Regions from separate parts of the Homo sapiens genome. Here all the other regions are linked to region 1. The links come from fine-mapping of genetic effects on gene expression. A gene starts in region 1. Each other region holds a variant in brackets. All regions are shown on one strand. Distances are between the middles of the regions.

Region 1 (8,108 bases):
AACACCACATGTTCTCACTCATAAGTGGGAGTTGAACAATGAGAACACATGGACACAGGGAGGGGAACATCACAGACTGGTGCCTGTTGGGGGATGGGAGGCAAGGGGAGGGAAAGCATTAGGACAAATACCTAATGCATATGGGGCTTAAAATCTAGATGACTGGTTGATGGATGCAGCAAACCACCATGGCACATGTATACCTATATAACAAACCCGAATGTTTCGCACATGTATCCCAGAACTTAAAGTATAATTAAAAAAAAAAATTGTTATTCTGCCTTTTTTGTATTAGAAATACAGTTTGGTAAATCCAGTTTACTTAAGACTTAAAACTGCTAGCTATGTATACAAAACAATAAACTATCAGAAAAGTGGCCAAAAATTAAGTAATTATTTCAACTTTTTATGACATCACTTTGGAAAATAACCTATTCCCTTTTAACTTGAGTAGTTAAAAAAGTTCTAACCTGTTTATGAAAAAAAAAAACAGAGTTAATGTGATATATATTTGATGCTACTTAGCAAAAAATTTTGGTAGTCCGACAAGTATAATTTATATATTGGAACAAACAAAACTCTGGAATACACAATCTATAACAAGCCAATTTACTACAGAGAAGGTATCCATAAATTATTTCATGCCAAAGGGTCTAATGTCAGATAAATTTTTGTTTTGTTTCGTTTTGAGACAGGGACTCATTGTCGCCCAGGCTGGAGTGCAGTAGGCAGATCTTCGCTCACTGTAACCTCCGCCTCCCAGATTCAAGCAAATCTCCTGCCTCAGCCTCCCAAGTAGCTGGGATCACAGGCATGTGCCACCACGCGCAGCTAATTTTGTATTTTTAGTAGAGGCGGGGTTTCACCGTGTTGTCCAGGCTGGTTTCGAACTCCTCACCTCAGGTGATCCACCCGCCTCGGCCTCCCAAAGTGTTAGGATTACAGGCATGAGCTACTGCACCCGGCCACACTTAGTATCCCTTGTTAAATGTTAAATTATCCCTTGTTAATTATTATCCCTTGTTAAATATTAAATTTTAAACAATTCAGTAAAAAGTTGAAATGAGTAAATATTTTGAAACAACTTTAAATGTTATGGTAGAACTCAAAAAAATCACTTAAAATGTTCTAAATGTTAAGTATATCAGTAAACTAGAAAAATGACATCTAGAAGCTAACACGCTATCTACAGAAGAATTTACTTCCACAAGTTACCCAAATAAAAGTGAAAAAAAAAAAAAGATCAAGTGATAAAGTTAATAGATGTTCATTTAAATTCAAATGAAGGAATTTTTCATTTAAAATACATCTGGCCTGATGCCTGTAATCCCAGTACTTTGGGAGGCCAAGGCGGGTGGATCACTTGAGGTCAGGAGTTCTAGACCAGCCTGACCAACATGGTGAAACCCCGTCTCTACCAAAAATATAAAAAATTAGCCAGGTACGGTGGTGCATGCCTGTAATCCCAGCTACTTGGGAGGCTGAGGCAGGAGAATCACTTGAACCCAGGAGGTGAAAGTTGCAGTGAGTGGAGATCGCGCCACTGCACTGAACTCCAGCCTGGGTGACAGAACAAGACTCCGTCTCAAAAAAAAAAAAAAAAAAAAAAAATCTGAGGACTTCAAAGGTGGAAAAAGTGCTAGAAACAAAATGAACTAACATTTTCCACAAGCCTAGTTTTGGGTCTTCAACACAGCAGTATTAGAAGATGGCTTTTACTTTGAGGTCCATGTCAAATGACAAAGTTATCATGCTTAACCAAGCGGACTGCTGAAAGGCATCACTTTTAAAACAAAGGTTTTACTTCAGTCACTTCTATTTAAAAGTTACAAATTACGACCAAGTATAGGAATCTTCCCTATGCACAATCTCAGCGCACATTTAGAACTAATGGTCATGACTGGGCGTGGTGGCTCACGCCTGTAATCCCAGCACTTTGGGAGGCCGAGGCGGGCGGATCACGAGGTAAGGAGATCGAGACCATCCTGGCTAACATTGTGAAACCCCGTCTCTACTAAAAATACAAAAAATTAGCCGGGCGCGGTGGCGGGCGCCTGTAGTCCCAGCTACTCGGGAGGCTGAGGCAGGAGAATGGTGTGAACCCAGGAGGCAGAGCTTGTAGTGAGCCGAGCTCCACTGCACTCCAGCCTGGGTGAGAGAGTGAGATTCCATCTGAAGAAAAAAAAAAAAAAAAAGAACTAATGGTCAACATGACCCACGGCAATTTTGAATACTTGGAAGAGCAGTCTAAGTACCCTCACACAAGTTAAAACCGTGTTAAGTCAGAGTCACAACTCAATGAGCCATGCACCTTTAATTTACACCTGGAAGTAAAATAGTTAAAGTGGAGAATTAGGTAGCTGATTAATCTATCCTGGGGCAAATCTTACATACTTTAATTAAAGCCTCTGAAAACACCTGATGTACAGGTTATAAAGAACAGATTCTAGACCAGTCATTCTAAGACTTATGCATGTAACACACACTTTCCAAAACTTTTTTTTTCGCTCTTGTTGCCCAGGCTGGAGTGCAATGGCGTGATCTCGGCTCACAGCAACCTCTGCCTCCCGGCTTCAAGCAATTCTCGTGCCTCAGCCTCCCAAGTAGCTGGGATCACAGGCATGTGCCACCACGCGCAGCTAATTTTGTATTTTTAGTAGAGGCGGGGTTTCACCGTGTTGTCCAGGCTGGTTTCGAACTCCTCACCTCAGGTGATCCACCCGCCTCGGCCTCCCAAAGTGCTGGGATTGAGACAGGGTCTTGCTCTCTCACCCAGGCTGGAGTGCAGTGGTGGGATCAAGGGTCACTGTAGCCTCAGCCTCCTGGGCTCAAGCGATGTTCCCACCTTAGCCTACCGAGTAGCTGGGACTACAAGTGCGCTATCACATGCAACTAATTTTTTAATTTTTTTGTGGAGACAGTGTTTCCCTTTGTTATCTAAGCTGGTCTCAAACTCCTGGGCTCAAGTGAGCCTTTCATATCAGTCTCTAAAAGTGCTGGCATTCCAGGTGTGAGGATATATTTCAAAATTACGCACAAACACGATTTTTTCACTCCCATCACTTTTCTCTTATTCCCTAGAGAACTTAATTTTTGCCAATAAGTCTTCTAAAATGTTACATTTCCTGTGGAATGCAAGAAACTAAATGCTTCATTAGCTAGTGGTGGCAATTACTATTTTTAATACTTCAAAAAAGCATTTCAATTTACTGTTCACTAGCACATTATGACATCATTCCCTTCCAGTGTTTGCTTGCTCATTAAATAATCCTGTTTCTATTTTGTTCTCTTGCCTTCAATACATAGATTGCAAATATTCCATTTCAGATGCTGCATTAATGATTCAGTGAGGCTGCTGAAAAACGCCTTTATATTTGAACGGTTTGGTAATACACTTTCTCTTATTGCGGTTGATATGGAGAGATTAATCTCTCACCAAAAGGCAAAATCTGGAGAAGATGAAATAGCAAAACTAAGGACCAATGGGAAGGGGGAGGCAAAGTCAATCGACAACCGTACCTAACAGGAGAGATTCCAAGGCTTCCATCAGATAAACAAAGGAAGCTGATTTTTCTACGGAGGCTGCATGTGCTGCAAGCTACCTGAAGCATTAGTATGCAAGCCCACTGAGCCTATTACCTTGAAAGCAGAGTCCAAGCACTGAATTTTTCTAGACTCCCATTATAGGTGGACACCCAGAAAGCCAGTGGAGACAATGATGGACGGGGAAGAGAGTGGGGCCGGTCTTCGATGCTTTCCTCCCACTCCACCAAAGCAGAAGTTAAAAACCTACAACCTACACGTATCAACCAGCTCCTCCGCTGCTCAACCATTTTTCAGGGGCAGAAGGAAGAGGTTGTGGGGGCTGGGCTTCATGTGGGGCGGGTGGGAGGAGCTGCAAAAGGAGTCAGGTTGAGAGGCGAAGGGTCGCAGGCGCTGTGGGGAGGACTGCACGACGCGAGCTGAGCACACAGAAGCAGGGCAGGGGGGCCCCGGAAGGGGCGAACGCCCGAACGGCTGGGGGCGGGGGCGGGCCCTTTCCTCACCTGGCAGCCCTTCTTGTGGTGAAATCCGACCACCACGATGTGCAGTACGGGCCCCCGGGGGACGCCATCCCCGCCTCTCCTGGCCTTCTCCATGGGCGGCCGCCGCGGGCCCGCACGACGACTTCGACCGCCAAGGGCAGCGGGTCTGACGACCCCACCGTGTGCGGAAAGCCGCGGACTTCGGGTGTCAGCGAGCACAGCACATGAGGGCCGCACAGGGAGATCGGTGGAGGCAAAGCAGCTCCCGCCGCCCCCAGGGCCACGGCCGCCCTTCCCTCATCCGCTTCCGCAGCTTCCGGGCTGTCACCTGACACGGCGGCCGCCGCCGGCGAGGCAGGGCTGGGCAAGGCCGGGAGGGCCCTGACGGGGCGGGGTCTGAGAGGCCGAGGTGGAGCCTGGGGGAGCGGGGTGGGTCTAGGAGAGGAGAGATCGACTCTGTGGGGCGGGGAGGAGCGGGGGGAGGAGCGGGGGGAGGGCGGGTCCGGGTGGGACTTGACGAGGAGCGGCGGGGTGGGGCTTACGTGACCCGGGCGGCTGGGCTTGCAGAGCCTGTGGTGTCCGCGGGACCTGGAGGTGCGGCGTGGCACACCTGCTTTTTCCTCCCTGGATTCAATCTCAAAGCACTTCCTTCTCTTTTGCCTTCTCTTTTTCCTCAAAGTTTTCCCACTTCCCTCTTCTCTTCTGTTTTCCTTGCTTTTTCACATCTTTTCGGTTCACTCTCCGAGTGTCCGATTCCTTCACCTCCTTGCCTTTGCCTCTGTGGCCCCCGTCCTTATTCTTAAATATGTAGTAACATGGAGCATACTGGTGAGGTTGCGTATCTGTGTATTCAGCCTTTAAATTACTTGCTTACTCGAGAATTCTTGTTTGTTTCTTTCTAGAGTTTTTTTTTCTTCGTTTAAATATTATGTGTAGGAATCTGAGACGCATTTAAAACCTGAAACAGAATATCCTTGACAACAAAGGAAGTTTACTTGGATACGTGTAAAATGATTATTCTAGTCCTGCGATTTTATAAGAATATTCTTTTCATTCCATCTCATTTTGGGTGTAGTACTCTGGTCAATACAAAATATATGGGCTCTGTTGTCACCAGGGTTTTTTAATTCCTTTACTGATTGTACTACAATTCTTTTTTAAGCAGTGAATCTCATGTCAATTTAAAGTGCATTATAGAAAAGATTTAACAAGTCTTATCTAGGACAGTTTTCAAATAACCTAAAGGATAGGTGTCTGCTTCAAATAGAATTCGAGATTACTACAGTAACTGTGATATTTTGCACTTCTGGTCTTGAAAAGTAAGGAGCTCTGTTCTAATCTAACCATAGCTGAGAAAAACAGTAGGCTTCCTAAATCAAATTTAGTTTCTGTGATTCAGTAGAACTGTTTTAATGCTAATACTGCAGACATTTTTCAAGATGCTGCTATACATTTCTTTTCTGTATTACAAAATTATTGGCATTGGCTAAGAAAACTGTGTAAAACTATATTGCTCCCTGTATGCAGAATATATTAACTGTTTTCTTAATATATTAACTGTTTTGAGCTGTCAGCTGTGTGATGTGTTAACTATTAATATTTTCTTGATATAACCTGTCTTGATATTTTCCACAATTGGCATGGCTAAAATTACTGTCTAATTGAACACCTTTTAAAGATGTATATAAGGGCCGGGTGTGGTGGCTCACGCCTGTAATCCCAGCACTTTGGGAGGCCAAGGCAGGCAGATCACCTGAGGTCAGGAGTTCTAGACCAGCCTGGCCAACATGGTAAAACCCCCTCTCTAGTACAAAATACAAAAATTAGACCTGTAATCCCAGCTACTCGGACGGCTGAGACAGGAGAATTGCTTGAATCCGGGAGGTGGAGGTTGCAGTGAGCCAAGATTGCACCATCGCACTTCAGCCTGGGGGACAAGAGCGAGATTTCCTCTAAAAAAAAAAAAGATATATATAAAAAGAGGGTCAGGCGTGGTGGCTCATGCTGGTAATCCCAGCACTTTGGGAGGCCGATGCGGGCAGATCACTTGAGGCCAAAAGTTGGAGACCAGCCTGGGCAACATGGTGAAACCCCATCTCTGCTAAAAATGCAAAAATTAGCCAGGCATGGTGGTGTGTGTAATCCCAGCTACTAGGGAGGCTGAGGCAAGAGAATCACCCTAACCCGGGAGGTGGAGGTTGCAGTGATCTGAGATGGTGTCACTGCACTGCTCTCCAGCCCAGATGACAGAATGAGACTCCATCTCAAAAAAATAAAGAAAGGGAGAGAGAGAGAAAGAAAAAGTTAGTTACTGGGAAAATTGAGACAGAAAGTGAACAAGGGAATTTCCAGGATTTTTTTCATCTCTAAATACACAGACTGGACCACTTAAGAATTTAGAATATAGGTGGGGCATGGCGGCTCACACCTGTAATCTCAGCACTTTGGGAGGCCAGGGTGGGTAGATCACTTGAGTCCAAGAGTTCGAGACCAACCTGAGCAATGTAATGAGACCTCATCTCTACAAAAAATAATAAAAAATAAATAGCCAGACTTGGTAGCACGCGCCTGTGGTACTGGCTTCTCAGGAGGCTGAGATGGGAGGATTGCTTGAGTCCGCGAGCACACCACTGTACTCCTGCCTGGGTAACAGAGTGAGGTCTTGTCTCTAAATTAATAAATAAAATATGATGGGGTGTTGCTATGTTGCCCAGGCTGGCCTCAAACTCTTGGGCTCAAGGGATCCTCCTGCCTCAGCCTCCTAAGTAGCTGGGGCTACAGTTGCCTGCCACCATGCACATCTTACATTATGTTTTAAATGAGTTGTATTAATGTAGAATAAATTCATTAACAAGATATTGTCCACAAGGACAAATGTCTATTGGGAAAATAATAAAATTTCTAATTTAACTCGAGGGAGAAAATTAGAAATGCCTTTCTGAACATATAATACATGGAAGAGCCTTTGGTAGTTACATGTATTTTATGATAAATTATAAATTCTATTTTACGTCTTCTACTTAAGACTTAAAGGGAGAAAAATCCTTGAGACATAGAGCTATGACATATTTTCAAGTTCATAACAACTCTCCATTTGGAATTGGCCTGTTCTTCCTTTTTGTGTCTTGCCTCAGGAGAGAAAATAATAAAAATACCACTCCCTGAAATCCCCATTAACTCTACTATGTAAGTGAACTATATATCGTTCCTTTTTTCAGATTCTAAAGAGATTTTCTTTATTCTTTATTAGTGGCATTCAAAATTGCTAATGTTTATTCTGTTTTTTTTTTGTTGTTGTTGTTTTGAGATGGAGTCTCACTCCGTCGCCAGGCTGGAGTGCAGTGGCACGATTGGCTCACTGCAACCTCTGCCTCCCAGGTTCAAGCGATTCTCCTGCCTCAGCCTCCTGAGTACCTGGGACTACAGGCGTGTGCCACCACACCTAGCTAATTTTTGTATTCTTAGTAGAGATGGGGTTTCACCATGTTGGCCAGGATGGTCTTCATGTCTTGACCTCGTGATCCGCCCACCTCGGCCCCCAAAGTGTTGGGATTATAGGCGTGAGCCACTGTGCCCAGCCTATTTTTCTAATTTTTAAAAACTCTATCAAATAACAACAATGTTTTGAATTCTCCCATACTGTCAGTATGGTATGGGGAAAATAAAATAGGAATAGAAAAGGAAAACCAGGAAAAGAGGTGGTTTTCAACCAAATGAGGATTGGACAAAAAGAAAAAAAGAGAAAGAGAAAGAAAGAAGCGTCACAAACAAATCTGGCATTACTTCGTATTTAAAATCTTATGAAGAGTAAGGAGAATGTTGATGGGTGTGAATGAAATAGTGAGAATCAATTTAAAGAATATTCATTAGGCGCCCTACAGTGTGCCTGAAAATGTAGTGTGCACAGTGTATAAAATAAGAAATTGCTTCCTTAAAGTGGCTTATGTCTGGTTATAAAAATAAGATGAATGCAAAACCAGCTAGCAATGCTAGCTTTATGTAGCTTCACTCTGAGCCAGACATCATGTATTAGAAAACAAGGATAAGTAATAACAGCTCATGTTTAAAAGGGCTATGTGCCAG
Region 2 (8,108 bases), 250 kb before region 1:
AAATTTTTAATGAACTGCTACAGGCTTAGTGTGAGCTGGCATGAAATGTGAAGGCGAGCAGGCTCTGTCAGGGAAGATTGGGGAAGCATTTAGAGAAAGCTTTCCCTATGGTGCTGGCTAGGGGACAGGAAAAGCAATCATTGCTCAGACTCTGCTCACACCCAAGTTGTGAAATCTCTCCTAAGGAAAAGAAAGCCATGATCTGCAGGGAGAACGGTATCAAACCCATTGTCTGAGGACACTGGTGGGTATCCAGTGAAGCTGGTGAAAGAGAACAGGCAGGAAAAAAGAAAAAAAAAAAACCTAAATGTTAAAAAACAATCATATTCCTTGAGAAGGGAACACTTATGAAGGGTACAGCCCCCAAGTCCCAAATTCACAGTACCTGTCTAAGATTGAGGCTTAACTGGAACATCAGAAAACCTGCCACTCTTCGCCCATTACATTAACAAGCCTTTGGTAAAAATCACAGTGGAATGTGACTGAGTGAGTTTTGCAAGGCATTTTCTTTCTAGGGAGCAGCACAAAGGACAGCCCAAAACCAAGTTCAAAACAGGGTACCACTAGAGGAATTTGAAATCGCTAGTATCCATAGCAGCAACAAACTCCAGCTTTGGTAACTACAGCAATTACAAACTTCAAATCCCGCCCACCCTAACTAGATTAACACAAATACCTACAATAAAGACCTAACAGTAAGAAAGATGTTCTTATTTTCAAGCATAAAAATACTGACCTCTATGTCTACTGTCTTATACAACATGTCTAACTTTCAGCAAAAATTATGAGGCATACCTAAAGGTAAGAAAAAGCACAGTCCGAAGAGACAGAGCAGTCATCATCCAGACCCCAAGAAGATACAGATACTGGAACAACTGGACAGGAGATTTAAGTAACTATGATTAATATTTTAAACACCCAAATGGAAAAGACAGATGATACGCAAGATCAGATAGATAATTTTAGCAGAGAGTTGGACACTATAAGAATCAAAGGGAAATGCTGGAAATAAAAACAAGAAGTAAAAAATGCCTTAGATGGGCTCATCAGCAGACACAGCACAGCAGAAGAAATAATCAGTGAGTATGAAGATAGGTCAATAGGAATGCAAAGAGAAAAATAAGTGGAGGAAGGAAACAATAAGAGCATCTAAGAGCTGTGACACCATATCAAATATTCTAATACATGCGTAATTAGAATCCCAGTGGGAGAGGAAAGGATGAGGAAGAATAAACATTTGAAAAATAAATGACTGAGAATTTTCCAAAATTAGTGACAGATACCAAACCACAGATCCAAGAAACTCAGAGAACATCAAAAAGGATAAATATCAAACAAATGCATGAATGAATAGATAAACAAACCAAACATGCATATACAAACCTGGGGGTAAATGTAAACACATTAAAGAGTATGAGACAGAGACTATCTCACAAAGCCTAAAATACTTATCGTCTGGCTCTTTATAGGAAAAGCTTGCTGATCTCTTTTCTAACAGAATGAATAGACTAGGGATATAATGTGAGTTTCTTGGGCAGCACCAAGGGCTTCATTTGAGGTTGATGGTCTTGAACTGAGAACAAAACCAGCCAACAGAATTGTGTTTCTCCAGCTATAATCAGATTCCCAAGTATAAACACGGAGAAAATGGAGAGTTGGATTTAATCATGTTGGGTCAGCTTTCCCTTGGATGTAGAAAGCCAAAAAGAACATTGCTCATGGCCTTCCAGCAATGTCAGCAGCAACAACAACAAAAGCCAGACAGTCTTCAAATTGACAACTTTTCCTGAAGCAGTCAGGGAGCTGAGGTCACAGGACAATCAAATAACCCAAAATAAATTAAAAAGAAAAACCATGTGCAAGAACAGAAACAAGCATTTAATTATACGGGTCATGCCACTAGACACAATGGTAAAGAACTCAGCTCAAATTGTTCACCAGTCAGTCGGTAAATGCCTAGTATGGGTTAGCAAGGGAATCTGCAATTGCTTACAGACATTTTTACACAGAGCTCATAAGGTGCTGACAAAAGATTAGCAAGAGTGCTCAGAAAGCATCCTCCATGGTAAAGCCTGGGAGAACAGCAGCCACTTAGAGAAAGGCATGAAACCCACCCACCCCCCTCTTCCTTATCTCCCCTGTAAGTCTTAAACTCTCTTAGCTTAAACTGCTGCGGGAAAGCTGGGGGAAAACACTGTCCTTTTCACATTACTGGTACAAAAATAGGCCACAGATCCTGATTTAGTTCTTGAGCCTTACTTTTGCTAACCCCTTGACGCCTGTTTTATATCTTCTCTCTCCAGTTATCGCAAACCTCCTCTCCCCCTTTCATGCTCAGCGAATGACCTTGTTTTCTACTGTTTTCCCATGCCCATTATGTATTTCCTATCTGTATCCCAGGTGCCTACTTCCTGGAATATGGAGTTGATTCAATATCATATTTGTTGAATGAATGAAACTATGCAAATTTCCTTCTGCTACATACTCAGTAGTCAATGGATACAACCTAAGCACAACCAAAATTAGGTTTATCTGTATTCTCACCTGCATTTGGTATTGTCACTATTTTTTATGTTACTCATTCTTACACATATGTAGTGATATATCATTATGGTTTTAATTTACATTTCCCTATTGGCTAATGATGATGTACATCTTTTTGTGCTTATTTGCCGTCCATATGTGAAACGTGTCTTTATGTATTTTGCTCCATTTCTATTTGAATTGTTTGTTTTATGAATTTTGGATCTTAGGGTGTTCTTTATATATTATAAATGCTAATTACTTTTCATATATATGGCTTGCAAAAAATTTTCCCAGTCTGTAGCTTGCCTTTTCATTCTCTTAAACAGGGTCTTTTGCATAGAAAAATTTTAAATTTTTTATGAAGTCCAGTATGTCCATTTTTCTCCTATTGATTGTGCTTTTGGTGTCAAGTCTAAGGATTCTTTGCCTAGCCCTAGAGATAAAGATTTTCTCCTGTATTTTTTGTAAAGGTTAAGAGTTTTGCATTTTATATCTAACTGATCCATTTTGAATGAAATTTAGGTCAAGATTCTGTTTGTTTGTTTGTTTGTTTGCATATGGATGTTCATTACTCCAGCACCATTTGTTGAAAGTGGATCTTTCCTTTCTTTCCTTCACTGAATTGCTTTTGTGCCTCTGCCAAATATGTCAATTGGACATATTTTGTATGGGTCTATTTCTGGGTTCTCTGTTCTCTTCCACTGATTTATGCATCTACCCCTCTGCCAATACCATATAGGTTTTTGTTGTTGTTGTTGTTTTTTAGACTGAGTCTCACTCTGTTGCCCAGGTTGGAGTGCAGTGGCATGATCGCAGCACACTGCAGCCTCTGTCTCCTGGGTTCAAACAATTCTCTTGCCTCAGCCACCTGAGTAGCTGGGATTACAGGCACATGCCACCACGCCCAGCTACTTTTTTATTTTTAGTAGAAATTGGGTTTCACCATGTTGGCCAATGTGGTCTTGAACACCTGCCCTCAAGTGATCCGCCCACATCAGCCTCCCAAAG[T/C]GCTGGGATTACAGGTGTGAGCCACTGTGTCTGGCCAGTAGTCTTAATTAACGCATCTATGCAGTAAGTCTTAGAAGCAAGTAGCCTGATTCCTCCTACTTTATTCTTTTCCAAAATTGGTTTGGCTAGGTTCTTTTTTGCCTTTTCATATATATTTTACAACATGCTATATCTACAAAAATCTTGTTGGGACTTTGATAAGAATCGCATTAAATTTGTAAATCAATTTTGGAAGAACTGACATCTTTACTGAATCTTCCAGTTTATGAACATGGTATATCTCTTCATTTATTTAGATCACCTTTGATTCCTTTCATCAGCATTGTATAGTTTTGATCATCTAAGTCTTATATGTATTTTGCTAGATATACATTTAAGTTTTTCATGTCATAGAATTATAGTTTTAATTTTGGTGTCCATCATTAGCACATAAAATACATTTTTTATGTTTATCTTTTATCACGCAACTTTGCTGAACTCACTTGTTCTACGAATTTTGTTGTGGTTATCTTTTTGTTGTTGTTTTAGATTTGTTGGGATTTTTTACATAGTTCTGGCATGGGCAAATAGGGACAGTTTTATTTCTTACTTTTTAATCTGTATGCTTTTTATTTCCATTATTTGCCTTTTGCACTAAAACTTTTAGCACTGTGTTTAATAAGTGGTGAATGTGAACATACATGCCTTGTTGTCAGCCTTAGGAGAAAGCATCAGTATTTAATCATTAAGCACAATGTTAGCCACAAGTTCTTTGCACGTGATTTTTACACAGTTGAGAAAATCTCCCTTTTATTTCTTTTTTTTCCTGAGAGTTCTTACCATGAATGGGTATTGAATTCTTTCAAATTTTTTTTCTGTACCAATTTATATGATTATGTGATTTTTCTTATTTTGCCTGTTAACATGTAATATGATGTATTTGAATATTGAAACAGCCTTGCATCCCTGGAAGAAAACCTCATTTGGTCATGGTATATAATTAATATATTATTGAAATCTATTTTTGCAATTTTGTTTAGGAATTTTGTGTTTATATTCGCAAGGGATATTAGTCTGAAGTTTACTTTGTTTTGATACTGTTGGTACTTTGTTGGTTTTAGTATCAAGGTAATAATAGTTTGAGGTAAAGAATTGGGAAGTGTTTCCTCTTCTCTTTTCCAGAAGAGATTGTATAGAATTGATGTTAATGATTGCTTAAACCTCTAGCAGAAGTCTCTAGTGAAAATACCTGGGTCTAGAGATTTCTTTTTGAAGAATTTCTACATTTGAATTCAAGTTCTTAATAGTTATAGAAATATTTAAATGATCTATTTTATATTGATTTTATTTATGGCAATAGTTTGAGTTTTTCAAGGAATTGGTATATTCCATCTAAATTGATAAATTTAAGTGTGTAGAGTTGTTTACAGTATTCCCTTATTATCTTTTTGATGTATGCAGAGTCTGCAGTGATAGCCCCTGTTTCATTGACATGGATATGGATAATTCGTGTCTTCTCTTTTTTTGTCAGTCTTGCTAGAGGTTTGTCAACTTTATTGACCTTTTTGAAGAACCAGCTCCTTTTTTCCCTTGGCTTTTCATATAGTTAGATATTTGTTCCCTCCAAATCTCATGTTGAAAAGTGATCTCTAGTGTTGCAGCTGGGATCTAGTGGGAGGTGTTTGGGTCATGGGGGTGGAATCCTCATGAATGACGTGGTTCCCACCCCACAGTAATAAGGGAGTTCTCCCTCTGTAAGTTTATGTGAGATCTGATTGTTAAGAGAATCTGGGACCTCACTCGTCTCTCTCTTGCTCCCTCTGTCTTGACCTGCCCCCTCCCCACTGGAAACTTTCTCTCTCTTGTTTGCTCCCCCTTCGCCTTCCACCATGATTATAAGCTTCCTAAGGTCTTCACCAGAAGCAGATGCTGGTACCATGCATGCTTCTTGTACGGTCTGCAGAACCATGAGCAAAAATAAACCTCTTTTCTTTCTAAACTACCCAGTCCTCGGGTATTTCTTTATAGCAATGTAAAAAAGACTAATACAGCTTTCTCTATTATTTTTCTATTTTCAATTTCATTGATTTCTACTCTTTATTATTTCCTTGATTCTACTGGCTTTCAGTTTATTTTGCTCTTTTTTTCCTAGGTTCCTAACTGGACGCTTAGATTATTGATTTTTTTCCTCTTTTCTAACATATTCATTTTAGTGCCATACATTTCCCTCACAGCATTGCCTTCTCTCTTGCCTATACGATATATAAATATTTAAGTAATACAAATGTTTGCTATTGGGAAGACGGAGTGGATGTACTTTTCCTGATTACTCCCTTGAAGTACAACTGAAAACCCTTTGAGTTATATACAAATCAAACATAAGAAGACTGAAAAGTAGAGAGAAGACAGACTTGAGACCCAAAGAATAACATGGTTATGAGTTCCATGGGCTCTCTTTGTGCCTCATTTTCTCAGATTTGGAGTTAAAGAGGCTGGCAATCCAGAAATGCCAGTGGGCACTGCTATGGTTTGAATGTGTCCCCTCCAAAATTCAGGTGTTGAAACTTAATGGCCAATGTGATAGTATTAAGAGATGGGACCTGCAAGAGGTGAGTAGGCCATGAGGACTCCCCCCTCATGAGTGTGACTAAAGCTCTCTTACTCTCCTACTATCTGCCATGTGAGGACACGGTGTTCCTCTCCTTCAGAAGATGCAACATCAAGGCACCGTCTTGGAAGTGGAGAGCAGTCTTCACCAGACACTAAATCTGCTAGCGCCTTGATCTTGGACTTTCTTGGACTCCAGAATTCTTAGACTCCAGAATTGTAAGATATAAATTTCTATTTTTTTTCAGTTTTGCCAATTTTATTGAACCAATAAAATTCCTACTAATAATGATGAAATAATTTCTGCAAGTATAAATGTGATAGTTTAACAAAACCCATTGTTCTGTAACTATACATAGATTTTCAAAATGTCATAAGAAGTGCAGTTATGAATTGTTAACATGTTAATACACAGTTCCTTTATTCCAGCACTTTGGGAGGCCGAGGCAGGCAGATCACCTGAGGTCAGGAGTTCGAGACCAGCCTGGCCAACATGGTAAAACCCTGTCTCTACTAAAAATACAAAAATTAGCCAAGCATGGTGGTACACACCTGTAATCTCAGCCACTTGGGGGGCTGAGACAGGAGAATTGCTTGAACCCAGGAGACAGGTTGCAGTAAACCGAGATGGTGCCACTGCACTCTAGCCTGGGCAACAGAGTGAGACTCTGTCTCAAAAAAAAGAAAAAAAAAGCTTGAAAACCATTAGATTCCTTAGAGGACTAGTTGAACATGTTCATACCAGAGGACTGAAAGTGACTTTCACTTTTTTTGAATGATCTGAATTTTTTTTTTTTTTTTGAGACATAGTTTCGCTCTTGTTGCCCAGGCTGGAGTGCCATGGTGCGATTTCAGCTCACTGCAACCTACGCCTCCTGGGTTCAAGCAATTCTCCTGCCTCAGCCTCCCGAGTCGCTGGAAATTACAGGCATGCATCACTATGCCCGGCTAATTTTTGTAGAGACAGGGTTTCACCATGTTAGTCCGGCTGGTCTCAAACTCCCGAGCTGAGGTGATCCACCCGCCTCGGCCTCCCAAAGTGCTGGGATTACAGGCGTGAGCCACCACGCCCAGCTGCATCATCTAAATTTTTATAGGAGCGAATTCTTATTTCTTCTGCAATTAAAAAAAGAAAACTTCTAAGTAAAGATAATTAGTTGTACACATTCATTAGCTTCCGCTCAGTCCAAACATCCTACTAAAATGATAAAAATGTAATTTTTAAAGGGAATACGCCTATAAAAAATTCAAGAAGATGAAATAAAAAGCAGTACCTTTAGACTCTGGAAAGAAAATTAATGAGTAATAATTTTCACTGCAGAACTAGGAAAGCAGAGAAGCAAACTGCTTTACAGCAGGCACAAGAATTGGCAAGCACAAGATATCTCTGGAAGCAGGGGTGAAGGCAGGCCTAAAAGAGAAAGATTCATCGCCAGTCTGTGTGGAAGCCGTGAGATCTCCCAGTTGTCCTCCCTGACTTGCAGCAGCTAAGCAACCCCAACCCTGGCACTCTACTACAAATTTGTTATTAGGAGAGGGAAAAGTTTCTAGACTTGCAGACAACAGGAATAGCTGAAGGCAGAGGTCCTGTATTGATACTAAATATGGAGATTAAATGAAAGTATCACTTTGAGTATTAAGACTCTCAATCTTATTCTTACTCTGCTCCTAGACCACTAGCAGAAACGATTGTGTCTTCCAGGCAAGAAAAGCCATTTCTGGAAAATATGACCAGCCCAAGAGAAAAGACAGTAATATTCCTAAGAAAATGGCCCAGACAGAGGACATTACATGCACAGAGAGCTTCCAATTTGCTTTTTAGTGCCCCCCACTTTAAAAGTATCAGGAGTAGGCCAAAGATCACCAAACATTTAAAGAAAATATCTAACAAAAGAATGAAGCCAAACAAACAGAAAAAGCAAGTGGGAAGAAACTGAGTCATCAGGAAAGGGAACAAAGCATACACATACATATATATACATACACAT
Region 3 (8,108 bases), 180 kb before region 1:
GGAGAAGGAAATAAAGGGTATTCAATTAGGAAAAGAGGAAATCAAATTGTCCCTGTTTGCAGATGACATGATTGTATATCTAGAAAACCCCATTGTCTCAGCCCAAAACCTCCTTAAGCTGATAAGCAACTTCAGCAAAGTCTCAGGATACAAAATCAATGTACAAAAATCACAAGCATTCTTATACACCAATAACAGACAAACAGAGAGCCAAATCATGAGTGAACTCCCATTCACAATTGCTTCAAAGAGAATAAAATACCTAGGAATCCAACTTACAAGGGATGTGAAGGACCTCTTCAAGCAGAACTACAAACCACGGCTCAAGGAAATAAAAGAGGATACAAACAAATGGAAGAACATTCCATGCTCATGGGTAGAAAGAATCTATATCGTGAAAATGGCCATACTGCCCAAGGTAATTTATAGATTCAGTGCCATCCCCATCAAGCTACCAATGACTTTCTTCACAGAATTGGAAAAAACTACTTTAAAGTTCATATGGAACCAAAAAAGAGCCCGCATCGCCAAGTCAATCCTAAGCCAAAAGAACAAAGCTGGAGGCATCACGCTACCTGACTTCAAACTATACTATAAGGATACAGTAACCAAAACAGCATGGTACTGGTACCAAAACAGAGATATAGATCAATGGAACAGAACAGAGCCCTCAGAAATAATGCTGCATATCTACAACTATCTGATCTTTGACAAACCTGAGAAAAACAAGCAATGGGGAAAGGATTCCCTATTTAATAAATGGTGCTGGGAAAACTGGCTAGCCTTATGTAGAAAGCTGAAACTGAATCCCTTCCTTACACCTTACACAAAAATTAATTCAAGATGGATTAAAGACTTAAACGTTAGACCCAAAACCATAAAAACCCTAGAAGAAAACCTAGGCATTACCATTCAGGACATAGGCATGGGCAAGGACTTCAGGTCTAAAACACCAAAAGCAATGGCAACAAAAGCCAAAAGTGACAAATGGGATCTAATTAAACTAAAGAGCTTCTGCACAGCAAAAGAAACTACCATCAGAATGAACAGGCAACCTACAAAATGGGAGAAAATTTTCGCAACCTACTCATCTGACAAAGGGCTAATATCCAGAACCTACAATGAACTCAAACAAATTTACAAGAAAAAAACAAACAACCCCATCAAAAAGTGGGCAAAGGATATTAACAGACACTTCTCAAAAGAAGACATTTATGCAGCCAAAAGACACATGAAAAAATGCTCATCATCACTGGCCATCAGACAAATGCAAATCAAAACCACAATGAGATACCATCTCACACCAGTTAGAATGGCAATCATTAAAAAGTCAGGAAACAACAGGTGCTGGAGAGGATGTGGAGAAATAGGAACACTTTTACACTGTTGGTGGGACTGTCAACTAGTTCAACCATTGTGGAAGTCAGTGTGGCGATTCCTCAGGGATCTAGAACTGGAAATACCATTTGACCCAGCCATCCCATTACTGGGTATATACCCAAAGGACTATAAATCATGCTGCTATAAAGACACATGCACACGTATGTTTATTGCGGTACTATTCACAATAGCGAAGACTTGGAACCAACCCAAATGTCCAACAATGATAGACTGGATTAAGAAAATGTGGCACATATACACCATGGAATACTATGCAGCCATAAAAAATGATGAGTTCGTGTCCTTTGTAGGGACATGGATGAAATTGGAAATCATCCTTCTCAGTAAACTATCGCAAGAACAAAAAACCAAACACCGCATATTCTCACTCATAGGTGGGAACTGAACAATGAGATCACATGGACACAGGTAGGGGAATATCACACTCTGGGGACTGTTGTGGGGTGGGGGGAGGGGGGAGGGATAGCATCGGGAGATATACCTAATGCTAGATGACGAGTTAGTGGGTGCAGCACACCAGCATGGCAGATGTATACTTATGTAACTAACCTGCACAATTTGCACATGTACCCTAAAACTGAAAGTATATAAAAAAAAGAAAAAAATGCTGCCAGTCTCTTTGCTAAAGCATAGTAAGAGTGACCTTTACTCCAGTTCCCAATAGGTTACTCATCTCCATCTGAGACCATCTCAGCCTGGACTTCATTATTTATATCACTATCAGCATTTTGGTCGAAACCATTCAACAAGTCTCTAGGAAGTTCCAAACTTTCATTCATCCTCTTGTATTCGTGTGAGCCTTCCAAACTGTTCCACCCTCTGCCTGTTACCCATTTCCAAAGTTGCTTCCACATTCTTATAGCAGTGCCCCACTACCTCGGTACCAATTCTCTGTATTAGTCTGTTTTCACACTGCTATGAAGAATACCACCAGAGACTGAGTATTTATAAAGAAAGGAGGTTTAATTGACTCATAGTTCTGCATGGCTGGGGAGGCCTCAGGAAACTTACAATCATGGTGGAAGGTGAAGGGGAAGCAAGGCACTTCTTACATGGGGCAGGCAAGAGAGAGAGAGAGAGAGAGAGAGCACCAGAAAGTACAACACTTTAAAACCATCAGCTCTCGTGAGAACTCACTCACTATCATGAGAATAGCATGGGGGAAACCGCCCCCATGATCCAATCACCTCCCACCAGGTTCTTCCCTTGACACCTGAGGATTACAATTCAAGATGAGATTTCAGTGGGGACACAAAGCCAAACCATATCAGAGTCTTCCTCTTAAAATTCATGGAAAGGTCATCTCTGTCTAATGTCTCTCTGATGCTTCTTTTGACAGTACCACTAAAGAAATTTCCATCCCAGAGAGTACATGTGGAGGACATCAGATTCAAAGACAAAAAATTATTTGTCATTGGTTTCAACCACAAAACCATTTACTGTGGTTTTAATATTGTGAATATCTGTTCTGATCCCAAGAAATCATCAGTCAAGTAGAGAAAAATAGAACAATCTATTTCTAGAGTGTCTAAAGCATTCATTCTATCATTTTAGTAGATGATATATATGAACATCAACATCCAGTCATTTCCTGAATAATACAAGACATTATAATTTACCTTAGAGTGAAGCTGTTCTCACAGAATTTACATTGTGCAATTTTGCTTTTTCACATGAATAAATTAGGGGCTCAGGAAGTAGAAGGACAAATAAGGCAGAGAACAAGCAGGAAAAATAATTGAGGTAGGACCAGCAATCCATGGAGTATCCCAAGTTCAGGTGAAAGTGTAGAATATATCTGAATGTGAGAGTAGGGCCAAAGATAGACTCATTTTGGCCATGGACTCACTGACGTGTGATCAAAGAAAAATAAGTCTGAAGAGCATTGGAAACCCGGGCAATGGTCATGGAATAAATGGATAGTCAAATACTACTAAAAATAATAATAATAGCCATCATTTATGTGATTACTGAAAAGAGTTTAAGATTTTCGTGCAGTTTGGTTCTTCACAGGGCAACCCCCAGAATTGGGGTTGAGCCCAGGAGGCCATGTGGGTTCTTGGCTTTGGGCAGGAAGGAATTCAAGAATGCTCCAACAGAGTGAAGTGAAAAGAAGTTTACCTTAAGAAAGTAAAGGGATGAAAGGGTGGCTACTCCACAGGCAGAGCAGCTGTGAGGGCTGCTGGTTGATTGTTTTTAAGGTTATTTCTTCATCATATGCTAAACAAGAGGTGGATTATTCATGAGTTTTCTGGGAACAGGGAGGGGAATTCCTGGAACTGAGGGTGTCTCCCGCTTTCAAACCATATAGGGTAACTTCCAGAGGTTGCTATGGCATTTGTAAACTGTCATGCTGCTGGTGGGAGTTTCCTTTAGTATGCTAATATATTATAATGAGCAATAAGGATGACCAGAGGTCACTTTAGTTGTCATCTTGGTTTTGGCGGGTTTTGGCCGGCTTCTTTACCACATCCTGTATTATCAGCAGGGTCTTTGTGACCTGTAACTTGTGAAACCAGTCGTGCCAGATTCCTGGGCTCCATTTTAACCTTAGGATATAGTCCACTAGGGATATACAGTAAAATTACAGTATCTTAATGTTATTTGAAATCTTCTCCCAAGTTGATAAATAGTTCATTCCTTTCTTTCATTTTTATTTTGATATTTAGGGATTTTTAAATTTTTGATATGTTTCCAAAAGCAAACCTACAAAAGAAGGAAGGTATAGTGTCCTAGGGCTGTCATAAAGAAGTACAACAAGCTAGGTGGCTTAAAACAGCAGAAATGTATTCTCTCACAGTTGCAGAGACTTGCAGTGGGACGTTAAGGTGTTGATGGGCATCTTGTCTCTGAAGGCTGGAGGGGAGAGTCCTTCCTTGCCTCCTCTCAGCCTCTGATGGCTGCTGGCCATCCTTGGAATTCCTTGGCATGCTGATGCCTCACCGCAGTCTCTGATCCATCTTCACACAGCCTTTTCCCCTGTGTGCCTGTAGCTTTGAGGCCAAATATTCCTCTTTATTTAGATTTACCAGTTGTGTTGGGTTTAGAGTCCACCTTAATCCAATATGACCTCATCTTGATCACGTCTGCAAGAATCCTATTTCCAAATAAGATCAATCCACAGGGTCTGGTGGACATGAAATTTTAGGGGACAGTATCCAAATCAGTTCACAAGGAAACATAATTTTAAAAATAGTGATATCAGAGCTAATACATCAGAGTATCAAGACCATTTTTTTCTTTTTCAGTAAATTTCTGGGTAGGCATCTCACTTTTGTATTTGTGAGTCTTAAACCCGGTTTAAACTTTGGCAGCTACTGGTACTGGCTACCAGGGCAGCTCCAGACAAAACTGAAGATGCAAATACAAGACGTAGATTTATCTTGTGTTTCTCTGTCTTCCCTCATACTGCC[G/A]CTTAGACTCTCCGTTAGGCTTCTAGTGTTTTCTTGTTTTGTCTCACGTAATTTTCCACCCTTGCTATCTTTCCAAAGCAGTGTGCCAAGCTAAAAAACTCTTTTCTTCAAAATAGGACCACTCCCCACCCTCATCCCCAGTCACGCAGGGTTCTTACCTTATGCTGACTTGATAGGAGGGAAAATAATCTGCAAAATTAGGTGGCACCCGAGTGAAATTCATATGTAATAATACATCAGTGAGTAGCCTTCTCAACACATTTGCATTTTTCCATGTAAATCCGGAGGAAAAATGATTGATAGTGTCATTTTGGGGATTAACATAAGCAGTTAGAGGAGCATTTTTGGCTTAAGATTTCTTGGTTAATGATAAATTTTAGTTCCGTAAGAAACCACTCACTCTATTCATAAGATAGCATTTTCTAACAGTTATATTAGTGTGGGTAATAGGATTTTCTAAGTTGAAGTATGCTGAGTCATATTATTTTTTAAATGCTGAAACTATTGTTGAAGCTATTTTGCATTCAGTTATTTCAATTAAGACAAGTTTATGTGAAAATACGTAGTTTTTTCGCAACTTTAGGATTTATCAATGGTCAGAAACCTGTGAAATTCATTGTCTTAATAGCTATTAGTTGCTTAATTGCTTTGTTTTTCAAAAACAGTATATTTACTTCGAAGAGGCATCATAATTATGTACCTTTTGTTATTTTAACTGAGCATATCCTTATTTCAGGGACTGTATTATTCCTATTTCAAGACTATTGTGGAAACACCCTCATTTTTGAATGGAGTATGGATGATTATGAATGATAAACTGACTGAATACCCCCTTGTTATTAATACATTAAAAAGATTCAATCTTTACCCTGAGGTAAGGTACTTTTTCCAATTGTGATTTTTCACTTTTGTAAAACTTTTTTGAATTAAATGCTGATTCTAACTCTAAGGTATAATTCAATATATTAAATTGTATTTAATTTTTTAAAAGAAAATATGTATCTTGGGGAGGAATATGTAAAAAACATCATTACTGATTTTGAGGAGGGGGCTTTAATTCTGTGGGGAACTGTTGTTGTGACTGCATTGTTTAAAAAATACAAAAACTAGATTTGGTGTGCTTACAAGGATTATACTAAGGGAGCTCTGTTACTTTTATATGTCATTTGTTAAATGTTTTCTTCCTTATCCTCATTTAATTAAGTGCACTTTCTTGAGTGGGAGTGGAGGGAAGGTGAGCCCGATCCAGCAAGTGGAGATGGCATTTGGCCTTTCCTTTATCCTCCTTGCAAAACTATAAATTTGTTGATGTGGAACTCTAGTTCAGTAGAATATATACTTTAATGATTTTGTCAGAAGACCTTCCGGATAGATATTCAACTATCCACCAGGAGTGTTTTCGAAACTATTTATTTACCTGCATCTTTGTTGATTGGATAGACAAAGAAATTGAAGTCACATGATGTATTTCATTCATTGATTATAGATATATTTCAGTGTTCTTTATATATGTATGTATAACACACATACATATACATATAATGCATTTTTACTTTTAAAATTAATTACCAATTCATGCTTTTCATCTATATTTCTATTAAAATTTTATATACTGGATATTAATATAATGCTATATAATAAAACATTTTTCCCAGTTGTTTGCCCTTTAGCTTTGTGTATGATGTCTGTGTATTTTTTTATACAGAAATATATCTATGAATCTTTTTGTCTTTTATACATACATGTAAAAAACTTCATTTTTATAATTATAACTTTTTTTAAATTTACATTTTTAATTTATCTGGAATTGGTTTTGATGCATAGTGTGGGGTAGGAATCTAACCTTGAATTTTTCTTTGAAAATAGTATTGTGTGTAACCTAACACTGATGAGGTGTCCATCCTCTCTCCACTGATTTGAAGTAAGCTTTCTTCTTTATGTGCAAAATTGTTATACATACGTGCTTTCATGTGTTTCTGGATTTTGTGCTCAGTATTTCTTAGGTTGAGGTCATGGGAAGTGGACTTTGAGATGGAGATTTGCATGCAGGAAGTAGTTGAGGGAGTGTCCTTAGGGTCAACACTTGAAGAGGGATGAATGAAGCAGAATAGGCAGGAGGAAGAGGAGAGCTTTGATGCAGTCACTGTGAAGGCCTCATCCAGTCCCTGGGCAGCTCTGGATCTGGGATGGCCTTGCAGAGTTGTCCTACCTTGACATAAGGGCCCCTGGTATCTTTCCCTATTGACTTGTCCGTCATTGGATGCAGATTGCCCTTGGGTAGGGGGTGTCACTTTGAGTGAATTTAATTTCTTCCCAGGGAGGGACACAGCTTCGAGCTCTCAGGCACCAGTCTTCCAACTAGCTGGAGGAATGATTGCCTCAGCCTGGAAGAGGGCATCTGGGGTGGCTTATCACCACCTGTACTATGGCTACATTGATCTGTCTAGCCATTCTTGTGCCAGTATCACACTATTTTAATTATTAAAGGTGATAAGACTTAATATCTGTTAAAACATTCCCTTTAGTTTTCTTGTTAGTTTTCTAGATACATTTTAGGCACTTGGAATTTTGATTAGAATTATTTTATGTTTATCAATTAATTTGAGGGAGAATTCAAATCTTAAATAATTTGGTCTATTCCAGTAGACCCAGTATCTTTTACTTGAGCAAATCCTCTTTTGTATCTCTTAGTAGAGTTGTATAGTTTTTGAAAAACATAAACTTAGCACTTTTTTTTGGCCCATATTTTGTCCTTACCCATGGATGAACAATTGAAAACTGACCAGTGAAGAATCTGCCTAGGAGATTCTGAGCCTCGTTTTACTAGATTTAAAGGGAGCCAAGTGGATGGTACAGAAAGGGAAAATATGGCAATTGTCACAATATCTCAAAAGTATTCTAGTAATGAAAATTGTTTGGTATATTTTCTTAAGATACCACTATATTTTTTAAAAATAGGTAATTTTGGCCAGCTGGTACTGGATTTATACCAAAATAATGGACTTCATTGCAATTCAAACCAAGATATGTCGGACGGTTACCAGAGGAGAAGGACTCAGTCCTACTGAAAGCTGTGAAGGTAAGTTTCGTTCTGTAATATTGTCCAGTTATCTGTTGTAACGTAATAAACTTATCCAGCATAATAAACTTAACACTGTAAACTTAGTGGTGTAAGCAACACCCATTTTATTATGCATATGGATTCTGCAAGTCCAGAATTTGGGCAGGCTTTAGCGGGGCTGGTTTATCTCCATGATTTCAGGGACCTCTGCTACTAAGACTCAAATGTCTGGG
Region 4 (8,108 bases), 290 kb before region 1:
TCCGCACAGCAGCCTCTCCTCCCCACCATGTTGATATCAACCTCAGTTTCCTTGCTCAGCTCTTTCATTTCCTGCTGACTAGAGCCCTATCCTGAATGCATGCCCAGCCCCCCAGCCCCGATCTCCTCCTTAACTCCTGTGGAAAAAAAAAGTCAATATATTAATTTAATAGAGCGAAATGAGTGTTCATTTACAAAAGCCAGCCGTGCAGTCTGCTAGTCAGAATGAAGAGTGTATTGAAACAAACACATACGAAGACTCTCCAGAAGAAAGGAAGGGGACAGCACGCCTCGCTGGGAGGCATTGCGTTTTTAGGAAACCCACACACGGAATCTGAGCTAAGCCTCTCTGGGAGTCCAAATATGTCATAATCTGCTCCCCAGCACTCACAAAATCATATTTTCTTTATGAACAGAATAAGTGTTTATTATAGAAAGTCAACTGAGAAAGGAATAAAGAAGAAAAACCTCTATCATCCTACAACTCAGATATATGCGCATGTGTGTGTGTGTTTATAGAATCGGAGTTATACATTTATTATATACCACAATGTATATTGCTTATATATTTACAAAATTGGACACAAACTCTTAGCTATCTTTTGTGAAGTCATTTTTAATATTTGGATAGTTGCATTGTTTTGTGTAGATCAATATTTTCCAAATTTGGCCGTGCTTCACAATTGTCTGGGGGTTGAAACATTTTTGCAAATTCCTAGGCTCTTTCCTACATGTTATTGCATCAGAATTTCTAGGTTTAGAAGTCTGCCTTCTTTGCCGGGTGCGGTGGCTCACACTTGAAATCCCAGCACTTTGGGAGGCTGAGGCAGGTGGATCATTTGAGGTCAGGAGTTTGGGACCAGCCTGGCCAACATGGTGAAACCCCGTCTCTACTAAAAATACAAAAAATTAGCCAGGCATGGTGGTGGGCAACTGTAATCCCAGCTACTGGGGAGGCTGAGGCAGAAGAATTGCTTGAACCTGGGAGGTGGAGGCTGCAGTGAGCCAAGGTCGCACCATCGCCCTCCAGCCTGGGCAACAAGAGTAAACTCTGTCTCAAAAAAAAAAAAAAAAAAAGAAAAGAAAAGAAAAAGAAGAAGTCTGCCTTCTTATAGCCCTCCCTGGTGATTCTGATGCAGGCCATCCTGCTGTGACCCATTTTGGGAACCACCGGTGTCCATGTGCCCTGGTAAGCAGTGAGAAGTGGCACCAGGCACAGGGCCACCTGCAGCACAGGGTGAGAGCTGTCACCTTGGAAGAGCCCAGGAAGGTACACCTGGCCAAATACCCTTCCAGTTCTCTCTTTGAGGGCAGAGCATTAGCGCAGCCTCCTGGAGCTTACAGGGAGGGATGACCCTGGGAAAGAAGAAAGGCTTATTGAAATGTATAGGGACCTGGGTCTTCCTATTTGCATAAAAGGAAGGAATGTGTGACCTCACTGTGGTCATTTCTCATAAGATATAGTCTACCTCCCACCTTGGTTCTTCACTTTGTACTTAATACCACCACAAATAGCCTTTTATTTTGGGTGACAGCTCTGCTTCATTCATCTTCTCCAACTCTTTCCTAAGGGCTGGGCCCTGCTGCCTCTTCTGGGTGTCTGTTTTGAAGTGACGACTGGCATTGTGGCCACTCCAGCTGAATGTGGACAGGATCTTTGAGCACCTGACTCAAAGCCTCCCTGGAGGCTTTAGAATTACTCTAGTGATTCTGCAGCCATTTCAGTTTTATGATTCTAATGGGCACCAACATGTTCTCCCATATCTGTCACCAATTCTACCCTGACGGCCGCCTCTCAGCCAACTGACCCCTCTGCCTCTGGTCTCCCTGGACTCCTTGAGTGGGTGGACCAGTCCTCATCAGGCATGTGCAGTCTGCTACCTGGGCACTCACTATTGCTCCGTCCAGCTTTTCTGAGGCTGTGCCTCTGACCCTGACCTCCATCCCCTTCCCAGACCCCCAAATAGTGCAGTGACACTTGTCCCAACATCCGCGGCCTGGCTGCCACACTCTCTCTAGAAGCCCTTGTCTTGTCTTCCACTGCCCTCTCCTCAAGACTGTCTGCAAGGAGGCAGGAGTGGGCCACCCTCTTTGTGTCAGGTTTTGGATAAGGGGCCCTAAGGGCCACCATTTTGATCTCAGCTTGGCTCTGTGCTCTTGCCACCCCCACACCCCCATGCATCCAAGTCCCACCACCTGTCAGAACATTACCTTCCTGGCCCCACCCCATGAGAATTGTGGCTCATCAGTGCTCAGTGGCTACACTCTCCATGCTGAGATCCAGATCCTTTTGGCTATCAGAATGATTGTCATCTTGGTGGCCCCATCTTGTGGTTCATGAACCAAATGTAGACCTTCTAACTTCCCAACTCCTATGGAGCAGTGGTTACGGGTCTCTACTGTCCAGGAGTGGGGGGCAGGCCCAGGTTGTATGTCTGTATGGGGGACTCAGGCTCTGCCATGTGACCTGCAGCCCTGACTCTCCCAGGCCTGATTCCCCAGTGACTCCTGCCACCCACTGACCCCCACTGCTGGAGTCATGCTGCAGAGCTCCTGGCATTCCAAGTCTTTTTCTGCTGTCAGAGCATTTCTCTCTAACCTTGCTCAAAGAAAGCTGGATTCAGATCATATTCAATGGTCTCAGACAGAGGCTGAGTAGGAAAGTGGTCCCATTGCGGTCATGACTCAAGAGATATCAGCCTAGGTCCTTCTCGGACCTCCTGATACCATTTCCATGATTAGAGAGTCTTTCTTTCTCTTTCTTTCTTTCTTTCTTTCTTTCTTTCTTTCTTTCTTTCTTTCTTTCTTTCTTTCTTTCTTTCTTTTCTTTTCTTTTCTTTTCTTTCTTTTTTTTTTTTGAGACAGAGTCTAGCTCTGTCTCCCGGGCTGGAGTGCAGTGGTGCCATCTTGGCTCACTGCAAGCTCCGCCTCCGGGGTTCACCCCATTCTCCTGCCTCAGTCTCCCAAGTAGCTGGGACTATAGGCGCCCGCCACCGCGCCCAGCTAATTTTTTTGTATTTTAGTAGAGATGGGGTTTCACCATGGTCTCGATCTCCTGACCTCGTGATCCACCCGCCTCGGCCTCCCAAAGTGCTGGGATTACAGGTGTGAGCCACCGCGCCCCGCCGAGTGTTTCTTTTGAAACAGAAGCCATTGACTCTTTTGAAGTCCCCACTTAAATACAAATATTAGGTTGTATTAAAAGTAATGGCAAAAAGTGCAATAGCTTTTGCACCAACCTCTAATATGTTGAGATGAATCATGCCTTAAGCCTTTCTCAGGGGGTGACATGGGCAGGACTGGGGTGGTGCGGTATGTACTAGTTGACAGGCAAAGGAAGCAATTTCTTGTTCTTTCTGATCTAGAATTGACAGTTTATGTGTCAAGAACTGTGCTAAGCACTTTCCTATGCTTCATTTCAGTTAATTTCATTGGCATATCACCACATACGGCTAATATCAGCATCTGCATGTTGCAGACCAGGAAAAGGAGATCCAGAAAGCACAAGCAAAATGCCTTAGTCACATAGCCAGTATGTGGGGCAAGGGTTTTGAACTTGGGCTTCCTGACATCCTGCCCCATGATGTGGGACAGCAGTGGATATTTCCCTGCCCCCTTCTTTCTCTCCTCTCTTCCAAGCTGCAGTACAACATTTGCAAATTCTGCCGTCTGCATCCTTCCCTGATCCGCTTGTGGTCTATGGCTGTCACCTCCTGTCCCACCTGTCTTTTGCCCCTTCATCTCTCCCTGCCTCACCATCCCTCCCAGTCCCTGGCAAAGTTTGCTGTAGCTTTCCACCCTTTTCCTTGAGGAGAGACAAATAGGCCTTGCAGTGTGTCCAAGGAGCCACAGTGTTTCTGAGGAGGGTGGTGGGGCTCAGGA[G/A]GGGCTACAGGAACAGTGGCCATTATAATAGGGCTTTCAGGACTGGGCTAAGCATGGTGCACACACAATGCCTTGACTTTTGTCTCTTAATCATTTCCTAGTCCATTTAGCTGGTTCCTGCCATTCAAATCCTGTAGTAAAGGGCCATTGTGTTTCCTTCCCAAATAGAATCGGGTATGTCATTCCAAATGCAGATAGGAGCCCCGCCTTTTAGTCAGCATGTACAGTGCCACTGTCCTCGCAGCTCCTCATTCTCTCCTAACAATAGCAGCCAGGTGCTGCCAAGAGCATGATTCTGCACAGCTGGAGGCCTCCAGGAGGCGCTGGGGCTTGACACCCTCTCAGGGAGCGCTTGATTCCTTGCCTCACACTTGGGGATCTCTAGGCCAATCTGGAGTGGAGGGTAGACTGATGATGGAGCCCCAGGGCCAGAAACCTTAGTGATCTGCCTGCATTTGCAGACTTCCATCTCATTCCTTGAATCAGACCCTTGAGGTAGGGCACTGGAAGCAGCTAAGCTCTCTGGAAGACGTTACCCCTTAGAACAGGGCTTCTTAACCTTCAATGTGTGGGAATCATCTGGGGATCTTGTTAAAATGCAAGTTTAGATTCAGCCTGAGAGTCTGTATTTTTAATAAGCTTCTGAGAAAAACCAATGTTGCTCCAAGGGCCCTGTTTTTACTAGCAAGAGCTCAGGAACTTGCTCAGTATGGTCACTTCGACTTTTAATTACTTATGTGTGGGACTAGGGCCTGAATTTGATTGTCAGGAAGAGTTCCAAGCATTCGTTCATTAACTCATTCATCCAATAAATATGCAGTGTCTACTATTGTTTTGGAGCGATAATGCCACAGGGACGAAGATAGAATATACCTGATTGTAACTGGTCAGTGGTGGAAGAAGGCAATTAAGCTGATAATTAGGTATAGTGCATCAGGTGAGATAAGTGAAGTGCTAGAAGTACTTCCCAGGAGCAGGATCCTTGAAAAATACATCTGTTGTTGAAAAAAGCAGAGGTAGTGGGAGCCAGGAGAACAGAGGAAAAGGGAGAGCCAATGGTCTGCTTAGCCTTGATGGAGCAGTAAGTCCAGAAAGGGGAAAGGGAACCAACATGGCCTGCTGGGGTCCTTTAACTTGGTACTCACATGGGACCTGGGTTTTCCTGTTAGTTTCTCATGCAGGGAGAGTTTGCCTGGCTCTGCTCTGTTTAAATTATTCTCTCCCTACTCCCTTCCTCCCTCATTCACCATTCCTAGGGTCCTCAGAGGATGTTACCCAGAAGCTCCATAAATCTAACCCTTTCAGCTTTCAGTGGTTTTAAGCAATAAGACAAGATGGTCTCACGGTTTAACTGAGGTTTCATTGAACATCCCATGAAATAATCCATTTCTGACTATTGTGGCCCTTGCGCAATTCCAGGGGTAGGACCTGGGGACAATGTAAATGACACCCCCACCCCCAAATTATCCCTCCTTTTTTTATTTTAACCGGTGCCCATTTTCATCAGGTCTCTACCCAGGAATCTTTGAATTCCTTGTAGCAGCCTGATGGTAGGGTGAATCTTAGGGTAATGTGAGCTCAAATATGACACCACTATGTTTTAAAATATTAAGTAATTTAATTCTTACAGGAAGATCCTGAAAGGCAGTATTATTGTTTCTACATTACATTTGAACAAAGGGAGGCACACACAGATAGATAAGCACTGCAACTTTCCTAGCATCACTGGGCTGGTGGTGGCCAGCATGCCAAGGCTCCCCTTAGCTGACTGGGTGAGGACCGTCCTCTGGTTCCAAGAGCACTGGGCTGGGGTGGGAAGCCAGATTCCAGTCTCAACTCTCTGCTTGTTGGGAAATTTACTCACTTCTCTGGGCCTCAGTCTTCTCCTCTTTCAAGAGAAGACTGTGTATCATTAGGGCTCTTGCCAGCTCTAACTCACCATGGCCCTTACAGGTATGAGTTGTTGTAACTTTAGTTATCAATGATCAGTTAGGGGCTGACAATAAGGCCCCTTTGCTGCACTCAGGGGAGGTTGAATGATGAGGAGCCTGCTTTGTTCTGCACTGCTTCCTGCCGTCTTGTCTTCCTGCCTCCTGCCTAGGCTGTTTCTGAAGCCTGTTCCTGGCTTGCCCCACCTAGTCCAGCTGTCTTGGCATTCATCTCTGTTATGGTTTGGATGTTTGTCCCCTCCAAATCTCATGTTGAAATGTAACCCCCAATGTTGGAAGGGCAGCCTGGTAGGAGGTGGCTCCCTCATGAATGGCTTAGCCCTATCCACTTGGTGAAGAGTGAGTTCTTGCTCTGGTAGTTCATGTGAGATCTGGTTGTTTAAAAGAGTGTGATACCTCTGTCTCTCTCTTGCTCCTGCTCTGACCATGTGACACATTGGCTCCCCCTTCACCTTTCACCATGGTGTAAGCTCCCTGAGGGCTCCCCAGAAGCGGGTGCCAGCACCATGCTTCATGTAAAGCCTGCAGAATCATGAGCCAATTAAACCTTTTTTTCTCTATAAATTAGCCAGCCTCAGGTACTTTTTTATAGCAATGCAAGAATGGCATAATACAAAATAAGTACTGAGGAGAGGGGCATTGCTATAAAGATACCTAAAAATGTGGATCCAGCATTGGAACTGGGTAATGGGCAGAGATTGGAAGAATTTCGAAGTTTCAGAAGAAGACAGGAAGATGAAGAAAAGTTTGCAACTTGTAGACTGGCTAAATGGTTGTGACCAAAATGCTGATAGAGATATTGAAGTCCAGGCTGATGAGGTCTCAGATGGAAATGAAGTTATTAGGAACTGGAGTAAAGTCACCCATGTTATGCTTTAGTAAAGAGCTTGGCTGCATTTTGTCCAGGCCCTAAGGCTCTGTGGAAGTTTCAACTTAAGAGTGATGACCTAGGGTATCTAGCAGTAGAAATTTCTAAGCAGCAAAGTGTTCCAGAAGTGGCCTAGTTGATTCGAACAGCCAATGCTTATATGTGCGAGCAAAGAAATGACCTGAAACTGGACCTTATATTTAAAAGGGAAGCAGAGCTTAAGAGTTTGGAAAATTTTCATGCTGGCTGATATGAGTGGGCTGTGTCCTCACCCAGATCTCATCTTGAATTCCCATGTGTTGTGAGACAGACCAAGTGTGAGATAATTCAGTCATGGGGGGAAGTCTTTCCTGTGCTGTTCTCATGAAAATGAATAAGTCTCACAAGACCTGATCATTTTATAAAGAGGAGTTCTCTCTCTCTTTGCCTGCTACCATCCATGTAAGACATAACTTGCTCCTCCTTGCCTTCCATCATGATTGTGAGGCCTCCCCAGCCATGTGGAACTGTAAGTCCCTTAAATCCTTTTTCCTGTATAGACCATGCAGTCTCGGGTATGTCTCTATCAGCAGCATGAAAATGGACAAATACACAGGCCATGTGCAGGAAATAAAATCATTTTCAGGAGAGAAATTCGAGCAGGCTGTGGAGCAACCACTTGCTAGGGAGATTAGCCTGACCTAAAGGGAGCCAAGTGTTAATATCTAAGACAATGGGAAAAAGGCCTTGAAGGCACTTTAGAAGTCTTGGGGCAGTCCCTTCCATCATAGGCCCAGAGGCCTAGGAGAAAAGTGGCTTAGGGGGCCAGGCCCAGGGCCTTGCTTCCCTGTGCTGCCACACTGCTCCCTGCATCCTGGCCACTCTGGCTTCTGCCATGACTCAAAGGGACCAAGGTTCAGCTTGGGCTGCAGCTCTAGAGGGTGCAAGCCATGCCTCGGCAGTTGTCACATGATGTTAAGTCTTCAGATGCTCAGAATGTAAGCATGAATGAGGCTTCCACCTAGATTTCAGAGGATTATGGAAGAGTTTGGGTGCCCAGGCAGAAGCCTGTTGCAGGGTGGAGCCCCAACAGAGAAACTCTACTAGGGCAATGGCAGGGGGAAATGTGGGATTGGAGCCTCTACACAGAGTCCCCACTGGGACACTGCCTAGTGGATCTATGGGAAGGGGGCCACTGCCTTCCAGACCCCAGAATGGTAGATTGGCAGCTTGCAAACTCTGCTTGGAAAAGCCACAAGCACTCCACTCCAACCCTTGAGAACAGCCATGTGTGCTGTACACTGCAAAGCCACAGGGGTGGATCTGCCCAAGGCCTTGGGAGCCCACCCCTCATACCAGGGTGTGGGACATGAAGTCAAAGGAGATTATTTTGGAGCTTTAAATGCAATGACTGTCCTGCTTGGTTTTAGA

Direction of the effects. Alleles are on the strand shown, and positions count from the first base shown. SD is a standard deviation of normalised expression in the study named. Not every link is listed here.
In carriers of allele T in region 2, the expression in thyroid of the gene that starts at base 4,360 in region 1 tends to be lower than with C alone (small effect, 0.25 SD a copy in GTEx).

The links. PIP is the estimated chance that this variant, and not a neighbour inherited with it, causes the effect.
Region 2: its variant is the best candidate, but not a certain one, in a credible set for the expression of AVL9 in thyroid (GTEx, PIP 0.82).
Region 3: its variant is the best candidate, but not a certain one, in a credible set for the expression of AVL9 in blood mononuclear cells (TOPMed, PIP 0.53).
Region 4: its variant is the best candidate, but not a certain one, in a credible set for the expression of AVL9 in whole blood (INTERVAL, PIP 0.66).

What each region holds. Positions count from the first base shown.
Region 1 is chr7:32,491,741-32,499,848 of GRCh38, reverse strand. It overlaps AVL9 (AVL9 cell migration associated), which reads right to left and starts at 4,360. Exons shown (of 16, transcript NM_015060.3): 1 at 4,047-4,360. The coding sequence starts at 4,139. It also overlaps a transcript of LSM5 not described here. RefSeq lists enhancers at 2,966-3,764, 3,765-4,563, 4,637-4,846 and a silencer at 3,897-4,546.
Region 2 is chr7:32,741,701-32,749,808 of GRCh38, reverse strand. No RefSeq gene overlaps it. Among named protein-coding and RNA genes, the nearest start is that of LINC00997, 13 kb to the left of the region's middle. The variant T/C (reference allele first, on the strand shown) is at 3,535.
Region 3 is chr7:32,676,573-32,684,680 of GRCh38, reverse strand. It overlaps the pseudogene DPY19L1P1. Among named protein-coding and RNA genes, the nearest start is that of MIR550A2, 52 kb to the left of the region's middle. RefSeq lists an enhancer at 3,325-4,083 and a silencer at 6,777-6,977. The variant G/A (reference allele first, on the strand shown) is at 4,815.
Region 4 is chr7:32,781,581-32,789,688 of GRCh38, reverse strand. No RefSeq gene overlaps it. Among named protein-coding and RNA genes, the nearest start is that of LINC00997, 27 kb to the right of the region's middle. RefSeq lists an enhancer at 1,139-1,640. The variant G/A (reference allele first, on the strand shown) is at 3,882.